2 separate regions of the Homo sapiens genome follow, and region 1 is linked to region 2. Evidence: fine-mapped expression QTL. A gene starts in region 2. The other region holds a variant in brackets. All regions are shown on one strand. Distances are between the middles of the regions.

Evidence for each region.
Region 1: its variant is fine-mapped to the expression of OMG in spleen (GTEx, PIP 0.97).

The regions. Positions count from the first base shown.
Region 1 is chr17:31,207,730-31,210,660 of GRCh38, reverse strand. All of the region lies in intron 12 of NF1 (neurofibromin 1), which reads right to left. Among named protein-coding and RNA genes, the nearest start is that of OMG, 88 kb to the left of the region's middle. The variant G/C (reference allele first, on the strand shown) is at 1,546.
Region 2 is chr17:31,295,864-31,298,794 of GRCh38, reverse strand. OMG (oligodendrocyte myelin glycoprotein) reads left to right here and starts at 1,556. Exons shown (of 2, transcript NM_002544.5): 1 at 1,556-1,639; 2 at 2,458-2,931. The coding sequence starts at 2,464. All of the region lies in intron 36 of NF1 (neurofibromin 1), which reads right to left.

The sequences.
Region 1 (2,931 bases), 88 kb after region 2:
TTGTCAGGTTGGTCTTTCCAGAAGAGAAGCAAATCAGAAACAGGAGGGTTTTTTGTTTTTTGTTTTTGTTTCTTTGAGACAGAGTCTCGCTCCGTTGCCCAGGCTGACAGTGCAGTGACACAATCTTGGCTCACTGCAACCTCCGCCTCCCGGGTTCAAGCAATTCTCCTGCCTCAGCCTCCTGAGTAGCTATAACTACAAGTGCCTGCCACCACGCCTGCCTAATTTTTTTGCATTTTTAGTAGAGACAAGGTTTCACCATGTTGGCCCAGTTGGTCTCAAACTCCTGGTCTCAAGTGACCTGCCCGCCCCGGCCTCCCTAAGTGCTGGTATTATAGGCATGAGCCACTGTGCCCGGCCTGTACGAGGATTTTGAAACCACATCAAGTAAGAAATTCATTCCTTCATTCATTCTGCAAACATGTACTAAATGCCCAATATGTATCAGATGTTGTTCAAACGTTAGGGATTCAGTGTTGATTAAGCCAGACAAAGCTACTGCTTTCATCAAGCTAACTTGCTAGTGAAGAAGGACAACTAAAGAACCTGATAAAGACACTGAACTGAATGTCAAGAAACCTCAGAACTAACTCTGGTTGACTGTTCATTAACCATGCATTTGTTATTAATATAACTTTATTTAAGCTTCAGTTTCTTTAGCTATAAAAACAGACCCAACAAACACACATACAGTTTTAAAGAGAGCTAAAAGAGGCCAGGCACAGTGGCTCATGCCTATAAGCCCTGCATTTTGGGAGACTGAGGCAGGTGGATCACCTGAGGTCACAGTTCAAGAGTAGCCTGCCCAAAATGGTGCTAAATGGTCTACTAAAAACACAAAATTAGCTGGCATGATGGTGGGCACCTGTAACCCCAGCTAGTCGGGAGGCTAAAGCAGGAGATCACTTGAACCTGGAAGGTAGAGGTTGGAGTGAGCCAAGATTGCATCACTGCACTCACTCCAGCCTGGGTGACAGAGTGGGACTCGGAGTGGGACTCTGTCTCAAGAAGAAAAAAAAAGAGAGAGAGCTAAAAGAATAAAATCCCTTCCAATGCCAAAACGATATAAAAATAAAACGAATTCTAGGAGTACAGAATAACCTTATTCAAATATCTGCAGGGCCACCTTGTGGAAGAATCAGAAGTATTCTATAGAGCTCCAACAGAAAGAGGATCAGTGATGGCTGTAAGTGACAGAGACATGATTCTATCTTGGTCGAAGAGAAAATTTTCAAATAATTAGCTCCTTCCAACAAGTAACTTGTCTCTCCAAAATACAAAGTGTTAGTAAAGCCTTGAAGCAGATATTATTTTACTTTTACTGTTTTGCAACAGAACTCCTAGATTGCTACTTCTGAAGCAAGCTAATGGCTCAGGTTTATCAGTCCCAAATCATTTGAGGCAATACAAATGAGGGACAACCCACTGAACATACTCTGTAATACAGTAGTTCTCAACTGGGGGTGATTTTGTCCCCCAAGGGGCATCTGGAAATGTTTGGAGACATGTTTGGTTTTCATGACTTGGAGGGCTGGGGGGTAAAGG[G/C]AATATTGGCATCTAGTGGGTAGAGGCCAGAGATGCTGCTGAATATCCCACAATGCGCAGTACAGCCCCCTATAACAGAGTTATCCAGTCCAAAATGTTAATAGTGCCAACAGTAGGAAACTCTGATGTTAGGTATTATCTGTAAACCATTTATTATATATATTTGCCTGTGTTGCCAGACTCCATGCCACCTGTAGTGAGTTTTTTTGTTTGATTTTTTTTTTGAGACCGATTCTCGCTCTTGTTGTCCACACTGGGGTGCAATGGCGCCATCTCAGTTCACTGCAACCTCTGCCTCCCAGGTTCAAGCGATTCTTCTGCCTCAGCCTCCTGAGTAGCTGGAATTACAGGGATGCACCACCACGCCTGGCTAATTTTTGTATTTTTAGTAGATATAGGGTATCACCATGTTGGCCAGGCTGGTCTCGACCTCCTGACCTCAGGTGATCCGCACACCTTGGCCTCCCAAAGTGCTGGGATTACAGACGTTAGCCACCGTGTCCGGTGTTGAGTTCTTCATTAGACATTTTCAAGCAAAAGCTATAAACCTTTTGCTTGGAATCTCGGTGAGGGGAAGTGCTGTGTATGTTTAGTTCACCATGCTTCCCTGGCATTAGCACCTTTGCCTGGCAAAGAGTAGAAGGTCAATACTTCCATACTGGTTATCTGACTGTTAACTCACCAAGTTTATGAAGGGTGAGATTTTACCCTAACAGCCATTCAAAACCTAAAATTTTCTTATTCTAAAAATTGTTTCATATTACATTTGCTATTTATTTTCTCTCCTGGTAATATCAGCCCAAAAGCTGTCCTTTAGTCATTATGTACAAATATACATACATATAACATTTCAAAAACATAAACAGCTTAGGAATGATTTTGAAAATTAAATGTATATTGATATTTTCAGAAAATAATTAGAAATAAAAACTAAATTCTTATTACAGGTGTCCTTGAGCCAAAAGAGGAAATCCTCTCTAGTTATGGCTTTTCGGTAAAATAATATGTAGCTCTGAGAATCAGCTTATAACTAGGGCTAAGAAGTAAAATAACTTCTAAGTGTAGAGAACATATTTAGACTACCAATCAAATTTTACCTCTGTTCAAAATAATCATTTAGTTTCATTTTTAGTCCTTATTCACAGAAAATTATGGGCAGCTGGTAAAGTGGATATTGAAGTTAAATAGGAAGTGAATATTAACCCCCCAACAAGTCCTATTATTGGAGGTCATTAACTTTCTACCAGAAAAGGTAGTAAACTTAAAGCAAAAAAGTCAAATAAACTTCTGATTTCCCAGATCTCTGGAATAAACAGGTCAATAAATAACTTTTAAACAACTTATTTCAAGTAGTTTTAAAAGATTTTTTAAAAATATCTTATTAAA
Region 2 (2,931 bases):
TAAATGTCAATGCATTCCCTATTTCCACAATATTGCTGAATGTAGTATTTTTAACACATTATTTTAAGCACTATGATTGATGGCTGGTTTCCTAAATCCACAGTAAGAATCCAATTGAGAGTTCAACTGAACCCTCAAAGTAAAGTGGCAATAAAGCACCCAATCAACAATAAACTTCTATGTTGCGGACTCTTAAAATGCAGATACTTTTCGAGGAACATTAGTTTTATACAAAAGGTGGCTCCTAGAGTATAGTTTCTCTTGTAAGAAAATAAACTTCAAATTTTAATACAACAAATTCTATTTGTGGTATAATCTAAATAATGCTAATATAATTTAGAGAAAAACAAACGATTTAGTAACAAGGCATAAAGAGACTTTCCTTACACATAACATGCTAAATATTACTCGTTTTTAAATGGTGCCACTTGGTAACGAAAATACCGTAACTTTATTTGCTTTCTTTAAACTTGCCATTCTGGAAATCAGATTTGTGTTTTAACAGATTTACACAAGCAGTCCACTGAAGAGTGGAGCAAAATTTATCATAAATCTGATCTCACTTTATAAAACTCATGATGAAAAATTTTCCTTTTATATCATTTCATGTAATTTTAAAACTATAAACTACTTTCCCAGAAAGATGAAATGTGCAACACTCTGAAATCACCTAAATTGATACTGCTATTCTTAAAACATAAAATCAAATAAATGGTCATTCATACAGCACCAAAAATGTCTTTGGAAAAAACAATACTCATATCCACTTACCACCCAAGGTTGCATAAAGAAAAAAAACTTTAACTCCAAATATATAAAATAAAACATGTTTATTTTACATAGGAACTGATAATCTGAAGTATAAGATGCTAATTTCCAAATGTATCCTGGCTTGTGTGTAGCCTTGGTCAAATGATCATTGTATCAGAAAGATAAAGAAAAAATAATCGTATTTCAGTACTTCTATACATCCTAAAAGGGAAGACGGAACACTTAAGTGGTTGATAAATTTGAAAAGCTGATTAAACATAATAATCACCATGTTGGGGGAAGACATAAAAGTCATAAAACAGATTTTTTATAATATTAAAAAAGTGACATGAAAATTATACAATTTTAGAAAGGAATATAAAAAGGCAGGAGTTAAAAAATAGTGGGACTAATATCATAGAAAACTATCCATGAGGAAGGTCAAATTTATTTTCAACATGTAAAAAGGATAAAGAGTAGAGGTATTTTAAAAATTCACAGATTCTTAATGAGGCAAATGTTAAAATATGGAACCCAATCTCAGACAAATACATAGAAAGGAGTAAGGGCCAACTCTCATGCATAAGGTATCCCATCCTATAGCAAATCAGATATATAGGTACGCTTGATGCCACAAATTTTTTAAAAAATTGTCCATTTTGTTGCGTGTGCACCTCTTGCCATAAATTTGAGTCAGCACCAGCGACAGCTCTGCAGTCCTCCTATGTGGTACTGATCAGGTGGTTGCAGAGCTTCAGCTCACAGCAACACAATGCAGCTGAGCAGGCAAGCACAGCCCACAGCCAGAAACAGTTCCGACTCTACAGAACAAGACGACCTTTAAGTTTCCCAGAGAAAATGAGATGCTGATGTTGAAGACGACACCACGGTAAGATGTTATTTAAATCAGTAAAAGGCTGACTTTGGAATCTTTTTCCTTTTTCTTTTAAGAAAAAGTCAACGTTAGGATTAAATATATATTCAATAGCAAGTGCATGCACCAGAAATTTGCTGCAGTGTCAGTTGAGGGATATTTTTTATACATTCAGTCACTCTGTAAATATACATATTGTTTTCCTTTAAAATGGGCACTGAAATATACAGAAAAAAATCACTTTATAAAATGTGAGGTTTATAGGTACTGTGTTGGTCTGGATTTTTCAAGTGCTTTTTACAAAGATATATTTATCCTAAAAACATACAGATAAAATTTCGAAGAACTGCTTTAATATCTAAATAAAATCTACCCTATATACACACATTGAATTACATTACTGCAGAGATTAAAAAAAAAAGACACGACAGCCATTTTTTCTCATCTGAGTAAGAAAGCATATCATCAAAAATAGTAATAGCCTACAACTGCAACTATTTATTTGCAAAGAATGCTATTTTATCATATTAAGGCTCTAGAAAGATAAATAAGAAAGAATATGGTTAGAAAAGGGGGGAGGGAGAGAGAAAATAAAGGAGAAAATGCAGGAGAGAGTAGGGAGAGAGTCTCTCTCTACCACATAGCCCAATTGAAGGATTAAGCATTTGGACTATAAATGAAGGGGAGCTTTGTTAGTTTAATCACTGGAACAATTATAAAAGGACTCGACAACAACGAGGTTTATTGAAAATTTTGCCTAATGCTAACTGACCCATGCAGATGCCTAAACTGTATTTGCATATTAAAAGAAGGGTGTATCTGTTTGTTTCTAGGCTTTGATGGAATATCAGATATTGAAAATGTCTCTCTGCCTGTTCATCCTTCTGTTTCTCACACCTGGTATTTTATGCATTTGTCCTCTCCAATGTATATGCACAGAGAGGCACAGGCATGTGGACTGTTCAGGCAGAAACTTGTCTACATTACCATCTGGACTGCAAGAGAATATTATACATTTAAACCTGTCTTATAACCACTTTACTGATCTGCATAACCAGTTAACCCAATATACCAATCTGAGGACCCTGGACATTTCAAACAACAGGCTTGAAAGCCTGCCTGCTCACTTACCTCGGTCTCTGTGGAACATGTCTGCTGCTAACAACAACATTAAACTTCTTGACAAATCTGATACTGCTTATCAGTGGAATCTTAAATATCTGGATGTTTCTAAGAACATGCTGGAAAAGGTTGTCCTCATTAAAAATACACTAAGAAGTCTCGAGGTTCTCAACCTCAGTAGTAAC